Regions from separate parts of the Homo sapiens genome. Here regions 1 and 2 are each reported to be linked to region 3. The links are microRNA targets in miRTarBase. Many come from high-throughput screens and were not tested one by one. Region 3 holds a microRNA gene; each other region holds the end of a gene's coding sequence. Distances are from middle to middle.

Region 1 (3,281 bases), not on the chromosome of region 3:
GCCCCTCTCACAGTGTCCTTGGGCTCTGCCCGCTGCCCTCCCCTCAGGCCCAGGGAGGGGAGCAAGGAGAAGGCAGGTGCGCGCAGCAAGCGGGCCCTGGAGGAAGAGGAGGGTGGCACGGAGGTCCTGTCCAAGAACAAGCAAAAGAAGCAGCTGAGGAACCCCCACAAGACCTTCGACCCCTCTCTGAAGCGTAAGTGCTGCTTCCGCTGATGGGCCCGAGAGAGCCTCTTCATCACCCCCATCCTCCCTGTTGCCAGTAACAGGAACCCAGACTTGTGGTCAGCAAGGCTCAAGGCCCAGAGCTGGAAGCAGACACCTGGAGGGCTTGGCGGAGTAGTCAGCCAGACTTGGGGTCAGAACGGGGACCCTGTGCAGGCCACAGCCCGTGCATGTGGGACATGGGCTCAGTGAATCAGATGAGGCTATGGGACAAGCTTTTCAGCCAGGTGAAGCTCGTCTACAGCTCAGGGCCTCGGGTCCCTGCGGCTGCCCCTGCCCAGCCTCACACAGGACACCTGAGCAGCTGCTGAGAGGGAGGCTGGGGTCCCCGGGAGTGTGTGCATGGGTCTTGTTGCTGGGCCAAAGGCACGGGACGAGGCTGCTCGCCCCTCTCTTAGCCACCAGTGGCAAGGCCTCAGCCTAGTGCTGTCTCCCCTGAGACCCCTGGTCGCCGCCGTATCCTGGGCCAGCCCATCTGGGCCCTCAACAGGTGGCAGCCTCCCAGATCTCTGACAACTTTACAAGCTGCAGGGGAGACCAGCGATAACCCTGAAACCTTCCCATGTAACCCCCAGGGCGCTGGCCAGTCCAAGAGCAGCTGCCACATCAGGCTGGTGCCAGCAGTCCCTGCCTGCCACACTGCCCCCCACCAGGCCACTGAATGAGGCAGCTGGGAGAGGCAGGAAGTGGGGCTTCAGGCTGAATTCTTGATTTGACCCTTCTTGGCCCTTTTGCTTGGGAGACCTGGAACTGAAGGGCATGGAACCCCCCTTGGACCCTGTGGGCAGGAAAACTGCTCCCCTTGTCCCTGCCTGGGGGTAGGACAGATAAGGCTGCTCGTCCTGCGGCGGCCCCCCAGCCCACCTGCTTCCTATCCGTTTCCTGCAGGATGGTGCCCCCTGCATCCCCTCACCCATTGCTCACGGAAGGAAAAGCAGACGTGGCCAGCCTGCATCCTCTGCCCTCCCTGAGCCTCCTGGCCTGGCTGGCCACAGCTGGCATGGACGCCATCAGCAGGCTCCGTGCAGGCGGACGGGGCAGCCCCCACAGCCAGGGCACCCTGGCCCTCACTCACCAGCACCCTTTTGTTCTTTTCCTAGCAAAATATGCAAAGTGTGACCAGTGTGGAAACCCAAAGGTGAGTGGGTTCCGGCTGCAAGCCACCAAGGCTTCAGCTTTGGGGGTGGGCAGGGTGGTCTCTGCACTGCTTGGGGTGGCAGGTCTGGTGCCCGCCCAGCTGGGTTTGCAACGTGGCTCAAGGTGGCATGGATGCCTCAGGACGGCCCCTTGCTTCCAGCCAAGCCCCTGCCCAGGCCTGGAGGGGAAGAGAGTCTGGGTGGGTGGGGGTGAGGGAGAGGCATCTGGCTTGGGAGCAGTTCCCAGGGCTGCATCCAGGCCGTGGGCATCTGGCAGAGGCTTCCCCAGTGGGGCTGCTCCCCTGCTGGCCAGCCTGGCCCCGGGAGTGGTGCTGGCCACAGGCTCCCGAGATTTCCTGTGCCCAGGGCAACAGATGTGTGTTCAGCCTGTGCCGCGGCTGCTGCAAGAAGCGAGCCTCCAAAGAGACTGCAGACTGCCCAGGTGAGGGCGCCTACCACCCGCCCCGCAGCAGGCAAACAGACCCCCTCCGCCTCCTGACCCCCGACTCCTCTCACTCGCTCTGCCAGGTCACGGATTGCTTTTTAAAACCAAATTGGAGAAGTCTCTGGCCTGGAAAGAGGCCCAGCCTGAGCTGCAGGAGCCTCAGCCAGCAGCACCTGGAACACCAGGTGGCTTCTCCGAAGTCATGGGCAGTGCCCTGGCCTGAAGGCCCACAACCCCCACCCCCAGGACTGCTGCTGGAGCCTGGACACGTCCTACTTAAGAAAATGCCTTTTACTCAGGGAATCTCCTGCTACTTAATGTGGAAAGACACGCCCATGTCCCCCTTCGGCCCACTCTGGGGGCCTGGAAATGCTGCAGTGGGGAGCAGGCCCCAGGCTGGACCTGCCCTGTCCTCAGCACGCGTGTGCAAAAGTGAACAATAAATCATTTCAAAGATGCGAGAGCCCACAGCCTGTGACCACTGCCCTCTCAGACCCAGGGAGGCATGAGCCGGGGCAGGTGCGGTTGGGGCCAGTGGGGGCTTCTGAACAACAGGATACATCTAAATGAAGGCAGCATCTGGGTAGACAAAAGTGGGGGCTTAGGTCCCCTCCCCACCTCCCCTAGGCGCCTCCATAGGCAAGTGGCCAAAGCCTCCGGGAGCTTCGTGATGCCTCACAGCCTTGGAAGCACCGCCTGCGAGGCCACAGTGGCTGCTGCTGGGGGCTGTTGAATCTGAGGGCCAGGCTTCTCATTTCTCTCACCAGGCCCTGCCTCCAAGCCTAGTCCCAGGGAGACAGCCCTCAGGAACCCAAGGCCACCCAGGGGTGACCAGAGCCTGCACGGCAGGAAAGAACAGCCAAGAGCAACGCTGAGTCTGCTCTTTAATGGACACCGCCCACTTGTCTGCACCTGACTGAGGCGGGAACAGGAGGGGTCTGGGAAATGGTGCCACTGGGCCTGGGTGCCGCACAGTCTGCTCCCTGGGGACAGAAACCCACAGGGTCGAGCCCTGCAGGCCTCTCCTTCCAGGAAGGGCCACAACTAGCAGCCGCCTGCCTCCTCAGCCCCAGGGAGGGCACACAGGCTGGGTGGCACCCAGTGGCCAGGCCCCTTAGCTGGGCCGCAGGCAGCACTGAGCCGCCTGGAGGTCCGAGGTCCGTGGAGGTGGGGAGGGGGTGCAGATGTCCTGGAGGCCAAGGTTCACCCCTCACATGTTGGTGCTCATCCGGGACTGGCTGTTGGCTGGAGTCAGCTCCCCCTGGCTCCCTTCTCTGGGCGGGGACTGCAGGGGAGACAAGGAGCAGCTCACAGCCACCAGGCCCCACACGCCGTGCGCCTGCCCCCCCTCAAGCCAGCCCACCTTGACATGGATCTGGTTGCGGAGCACAGCTGCCCGCAGCATCATGGCCTTGGCGCGGCGCTGGAACTCCTTGCCCATCAACAGAGACTTCTCAAAGGTGGTGCTGCGCTGATCC
Region 2 (3,000 bases), 14 Mb from region 3:
CTAATGAGTCACCCATACCAAATATTCCTATGTGGCTTCTGTCACCAGCATAACCTTCGTAGAAAACTACTCAGGTTTTTTCATCTTCCCAAGATATGGCAATAACCAAAGGGCTCAAGATACTGTACTCCCAAATTCCTACAGAACATCTGTGTAATATATCTGTACATCTGTACGGAATGCATCAGTGTAAAGACAATCATGCCCAATTTTAATGACTCTGATGAAAAGCCATTAAATGAATCAGTGCTGGGTTACTAAAATAATTCTCAGGTTTGCTGACTTTAAAAATTATATTTTTAATTATAGAATATTGTTAGAATAATACAAACACTAGGATAACTGTGACCAATACCATAAGGAAAACTGTTCTACATATTGATTTGTTCATTAATTCTCCACAACCATAGAAAACAGGCACAAAGTGTTCACGGGATGTGCAGAGGCAGCCAGGGACTTGGGAGCAGAAGGCATGCAAAAAGCATTAGTGAAGGGAGTCTGATGCATGAGTTCTATACAAAGTTCAACACAGCAAACGGGCAACAATTGGCAGAAAGAGGAGACAGCTGGTGTGGCCCTTGTCCCTTAAGTTTCCCAGCTAGATTGTTCATGTATGGAGATAGCTGGGTGCTTAGAAGCCTTGTTTTAAGCCCTTCACCTCCAAGAAGCCAAAAGCAGCAGCAGGAACTGGTTGGGGTGGGGCAAGAACAGTAGGGAAGGAAAAGGGGGTGAAATACAGTTAGGTCATGGAAATGCGGTCATCTATGGCCACTCCCAAGCTGATACCCATAGTGGCTCACAGAAGCAACAGGAGAACTTTGACATTTATTAAAACCATCAGCAACATATATGAGAAAAGACATATTTGAGTTTAGTTACCAAGAACATGTGTCACCCGACAATTAAAATATGGATACCCACAGTCTGCTAGATTTTGTAAATAACAAAAAAACATGCTCCTTGCCTGAGTTTGTCCTTAAAAAGGAGTGGCAACATGAAGGAACCCCCCTGGAAGATGGGTTACTTTAAAGGTTGTGTTATTAACAAGTGATGTGGTCCCACACAGCTGTGGGTCACAATAACTCATTATAGTACCCACCCAGAGAGACCACTGGCTCCTTTAACACCAAGTCCTAAAAAGCTATGGCAAAACATTTTTAAAATGTTACAACATTCACAATAAAGAACAGTAGCAATAAAGCACAGTAGAAATAAACTGGGGGTACTCTCAAAAGAAAAGATATTCCTCACTCCAGTCCCATTTTCTGGGCACCAATTCCCTTCCACCCCAACATGCTTGGATAGCATCAACACTTGAGATATTTCTTAATTCCTACCTGGACTGAGATTAGGAAAACTGACACTACTGGGCTTAAATTGGGCGAACTGTTATTTTAACCTCTTATATCTGTAGGGTGGGAGGATGGAAATACATTCCTACCGAGGTTCGTTAATTCCTTCTGACTAAGCCAAAGAGTTCTTCATTACCATAGAAGATAATTCATTCTGAGAATAGGACAATCGACCTATTTGTCTGGTCATTATCTTCCACAATTGACAAACACATACAAACAAGTGCTTAGCTCTGTACAAAGACAGACCTTACAGGAGAGTGCACACTAAAGCACTAGTGTTTAAATTATTTTCCATAATGAAAAAAGGACATTTCTCACATTGGAGTTATGTCTGTACTTCTGTCACATGACTCACATCACCCAAGAACATGCTAAGTCTCTGTAAATTCAGTTTCTATTAGAAAAACCACAGGAATACACATTACTGTACATACACATGCCCTGATGCAAGCTAAGATAAACACTGGGATGTGGCCCTTATCAAATCTTAGAGTTAGCAGGATAGGAAGAGTTGATCTTAAAGATTAGAAGGGAAAGAACACAGAAACGACCTACATTCCTTGGGAAGGGACTCTGTGGTTCCTTCCCTGAAGGACTCAATTCCACTTGCTCCTTACACTTAACTGTCACTGATGGTCCTATCTTTTCTTGAAGATATTTTCTATACAATATTCCCTATAGTGATCCCCAAAGAAAATTCATAAATCTGATTAATGGCAGTAATAACTGTGGGCATCTTCTGCTAAAGTCACCATCATTGATGGGTCCTTGGTCCCCAAACCTGTGTCTCATTTTTCCTTTCCAACCGTATCTTCAGTTAGCCTTCACAAAGATGCAAGCTTTAAAGGAGCTAATTAGAAACAATGAGAAGGAGAAAAGTTACAATCATTGCCTTCATCGTGCAAAATCTTGCCCTCAGGAAGATGGAAAAGATACAAATGCATGAGCAACTCAAGGAAAAAGCCCTTTGGAAGGGAAGATGTGTGTGCCCAACTACTATGGTGTGTGAATAGGTGTGGCAATTTAGGCAGAGTCTCTAGTTGCCTTTTTCCAAAGCAGCCATTACCACCCTATTACAGTCCCACGTTTCACTTAGCATAGTTCCTTGGGCCAAGGATGGGAGAAAATAACATTGAAAGATTTACTCCATTTCCAGGCCTAAGCATTCACCAGCATTTGTCCCCTGGTCTTCAGATTTCCAGTTACTTGTGGGGCTGCTTTTAATGAAGTAACCCATTGAGTGAATAAAAATCACCATTTTGGAGGAGATAACATTCCCAAAGCTGAGGGTCAGAATTTCAAATGGCTTGTCATCTCTGATGGTTTAAATCGTGGCCCACAACTAGGAGAGTATGATAAAAGCAGCTCAGTCTTGAGGGCGTTCATTGATATCAAATAAAATTGTATCTTCAAATGAATCATTTCTCAGCCATCATAATTACAGCTTAGTCCGTATGAACTCTCTTATGTTTAATAAGAGCTGAGCTCCTGCTGAAACTCTTCTCACATTCGGTACATTCATAAGGTTTCTCTCCCGTGTGAACTCTTTGATGTGTGATGAGGTTGGAGCTCTGGGTGAAACCTTTCCCACACTGCACACACTCGTAGGGCTTCTCCCCTGTGTGGGTTCTCTGATGTTTAATTA
Region 3 (3,344 bases):
TCAGGGTCTGTGCCTGCCTTCGTACCTGCCTGAGCATTGACGTACAGGGTAGTGATAAGCATAGGCCCTGGGCTTGCGTCTCTCTTCCACCGTTAACTGCTGTGTGACCCTGGTGACTAAGCTGCCTTCTCTGGACCACAGTTTTCATCTGAAAAACAGGGAAGGAGTTGATGATGGTATAGTGCCCTCCTCACAAGCTTGCTGATGATTCAGTGTTAGACACTTATAACAGGGCCTGGTTCACAGCTCTCAGCAAATGGGAACTTTTATTATAAGCAGGCTGGCAGATGTGGCAGAGGGACCGGGAAGGATGAGTGCTGCCCTGGGCTGGACTTTGTCTCCCCTACAATTTAGAGACCTTCAGACCCTGGTGCCCCAGTCTTGCCCCCAAATAGCCTCCATGGCCCCCAGCTGCCCCACCTCCCTCCCTAGCTTCTCTTAGGGCTCCAGCTATCACCCCTTACCTCCCCCACTCCCATTAAAGACACCCACAGGATGTGGTTGGCCCTGGACTTGCCTCTTTTGCGTAACATTTATTCTGTTTTATTTGCCAAATACGAGAGTCTAAGCTGTTCACTGAGGGGGCAGTGAGACGTGGGGCTGCTGGTCCTAGGAGCTCTTCCATGACACCTAGTGTTACCTGGGAGCCCCAAGCCCCAGTCCCCCATCCCTCAGGAAATCCAGTTGGAACCCCTACTTTGCAGGGCCATCTTTGGCCTGAAGCCACCAGGAAAGCTGTCCCACTGACTGACCCCTCTTAAGGAAGCTGCAGACTGCTGGGCCCATTTTCAGATAGAGGAACGGAGAGCTGCGGCAGCCCAGGAGCCCTGCCAGGCTTCCTTCTGGGTGCAGCCACCTGTGGGTGGGGCGCGGCCTCGTCTGAGACCAAGGCAGGGCCCATGCCTTACTCAGCTGTCCTTGCTAAGAGTCCCCTAGCATCTTCCTGATGGTCTTTCTGCCTTGGGGTGAAGAGGCATTTGGGGGAATTGCCATCTTGGGAGGAAAAGCAGTATCCTTTCACTTTCAGACTGAAAGGCTCCTGGGGAACTTGCTTCACTCCGGCGCTTTCTGTCCCATGCTGAAGGCTGGAGTCGCCAGCCCCTTCCCCTTTGCCTTTCTCAGGCCCCAGTCCCTGAGGTGTGTGTGAGGACTGAACTTTAATCCGGAACAATCTGGTTTCTCCTCGGTCAGCCCAGCCGGTGCTTCCCCCGCCCCCACCCACGCTGCAAGAGGCGAGGGAGGGGTGGTGACTCAGTGTGCATGTGTACATCTGTCCCTGTGGTCCCGGCAGCTCGCCGGGTGGGGCAGGAACCAGAAGTCTCGCGGCACCTTTCCCCCACCCCCAGGTGTGTTGCAAGTGGCCTGGCCCTCCCCCACCGTGGGGAGCAGTGCTGCCAGCTTCCTGGGCGCTTCCTCACTTTCAGGAGATGGAGCCTCAGGGAAAGTCCCAGCGGGGCCTGGCCATCCTGGAGCTGTGGGAACTGGCACTGGGAATGGAGGCCTTGGCCTTGGGCCCCACCTGCAGAGGGCCAGGGCCTGAGCCCTGGGGAAAGGGGAAGGGGCTGGTGACTCCAAAGGGGAAGGGACTGCTCACTACCACCACCAAAGCCAGGGCAGGGGTGGGGTGTGACCACCTCCCTCCTCCTGCTCAGGCCTAGGGGGTGGCAGGCTGGCCATCAGTGTGGGCTAACCCTGTCCTCTCCCTCCCAGCCATGGGAACAAGGAGGTCTTCTCCTGCCGGGGCATCCTGCTGGCAGTGAACTGGTTTCTGGAGCGGGGCCACACAGACATCACAGTGTTTGTGCCATCCTGGAGGAAGGAGCAGCCTCGGCCCGACGTGCCCATCACAGGTGAGTGGTGCCTCTGGAGGTGGGATGGTCTTACTGCCCCAGCAGCCCTGGTTCTCCCCAAGAGAGACCCTCTGGGAGTGACCTACAACTTCTAGAACTCAAGCAGGGACCAGCATTTCTTTTCTCAGTTTTTTCTGTCCTTAGCAACCTGCTCTGAATGGTGGTCATTGGAGGTCACCTTGTCCAGTCTTCTGCCTCAGATCTGGAGCCCCTCCCTCATCCTACTGGTGGGCAGGTCGCTCTTTCAACATCCCCAGTGGCAGAAGCGCAGTATCACATAGTGGTTAAGCCTGTGGGCTCTGAGTCGAGACAGCCAGAGTTGGAATCCTGGCTCTGTCCCCTCTTGGCGCCCTGGCCTGGACAGGGACCCCTCTTAGCCCTGCTCTGAGCCACATGCTCCTCATCTGAAACATGGGGTCGGTGTCAGCAGGGGGTGTTGACAGCATTGCCTTCCTCGTGAGGTCATATAAGTTAACACACGGTAAGTGCTGAGAAGAGTACCTGGCACATGGTAGATGCTCAGTGTATGTTAGCTGTTACCACTGTTCTTGCAAGAGCCCCCAGCCTTTGGAGGTAAAAACTGAATCAGTTTCTCTAGAAGTCTTGAGATCTGGGGGCAGCCTGTCTGGGACTGTAGGCTCCAGGAAGAGGGGCCCTTTCCACTTGCACACTTCTGTGTCCCTGTGGTCCCAGCAGCTCCCCAGGTGGGGCATGGTGAGTGGCCTGACCTTTTCCCACCATGGGATTTAGCGACCTTGTCCTGGCAATGCAAGGGACAGAGCCAAGATACTTCTCCCACCCCAGAGCAAGCTGCGGCTCATTCACGGACCCCTCAGAACAGGCTGGATGAAAGCCAAAGCCAAGACCACATCTGGCTTGAACAGGCCTGATGTCCAGAAGGAGAAAAGGAACAAGGCCAGCTCTGTGCTTGGAGCCTCTGCCATGCAGGCCCTGCCGCCTGTGTTCAGATGTTCTTGGTCTTCAGGCAGCAAACTGTGCCACGCCAAGGGAGGGGCTGGGGCATGGAAGAGGCCTCAGCAGAGTTAGTTCTTGCCCCGGTGACCTTGGCGTTAACCACTCCTGTGTGTGGCCATCAGCAGGTTAGGGAGCCCTGTAGGCCTGGCTCTAGGTCCCGCTGGGCCCTGACCTGTGTGCACCCGTCACCTCCCAGACCAGCACATCCTGCGGGAACTGGAGAAGAAGAAGATCCTGGTGTTCACACCATCACGACGCGTGGGTGGCAAGCGGGTGGTGTGCTATGACGACAGATTCATTGTGAAGCTGGCCTACGAGTCTGACGGGATCGTGGTTTCCAACGACACATACCGTGACCTCCAAGGCGAGCGGCAGGAGTGGAAGCGCTTCATCGAGGAGCGGCTGCTCATGTACTCCTTCGTCAATGACAAGTATGTTCCCTCCCAGAGGCCCTGACAGACTTGGGGTCCACAGGGGAAGCCAGAGGTGCCCTTGGCAAGGGTGGAGCTGGGGGCTGGG

What was found. The annotated mature microRNA hsa-miR-6732-5p reads UAGGGGGUGGCAGGCUGGCC and lies in region 3 at 1,656-1,675, shown strand. An mRNA with a match to its seed (bases 2 to 7 or 8) in the 3' UTR can be bound and repressed. Matches are read on the target gene's strand: a 7mer-m8 pairs with bases 2 to 8, a 7mer-A1 pairs with bases 2 to 7 and ends in A, and an 8mer does both.
Region 1: the mRNA of GPS1 is a reported target of hsa-miR-6732-5p. Seed matches in the 3' UTR shown: 7mer-m8 at 2,977-2,983.
Region 2: the mRNA of ZNF436 is a reported target of hsa-miR-6732-5p. Seed matches in the 3' UTR shown: 7mer-m8 at 724-730.

Annotation. Positions count from the first base shown.
Region 1 is chr17:82,056,860-82,060,140 of GRCh38, reverse strand. GPS1 (G protein pathway suppressor 1) reads right to left here. Exons shown (of 13, transcript NM_001321092.3): 12 at 3,167-3,281; 13 at 2,671-3,088. The coding sequence ends at 3,014. It overlaps DUS1L (dihydrouridine synthase 1 like), which reads left to right. Exons shown (of 14, transcript NM_022156.5): 11 at 48-193; 12 at 1,323-1,360; 13 at 1,725-1,800; 14 at 1,887-2,635. The coding sequence ends at 2,026. Among named protein-coding and RNA genes, the nearest start is that of GPS1, 6.6 kb to the right of the region's middle.
Region 2 is chr1:23,359,169-23,362,168 of GRCh38, forward strand. It overlaps ZNF436 (zinc finger protein 436), which reads right to left. Exons shown (of 4, transcript NM_001077195.2): 4 at 280-3,000. The coding sequence ends at 2,801. Among named protein-coding and RNA genes, the nearest start is that of ZNF436-AS1, 8.3 kb to the right of the region's middle.
Region 3 is chr1:37,478,580-37,481,923 of GRCh38, forward strand. MIR6732 (microRNA 6732) reads left to right here and starts at 1,651; the gene lies at 1,651-1,710. ZC3H12A (zinc finger CCCH-type containing 12A) reads left to right here. Exons shown (of 6, transcript NM_025079.3): 3 at 1,711-1,850; 4 at 3,022-3,256. RefSeq lists enhancers at 346-1,172, 796-1,335, 1,109-1,403, 1,173-1,999.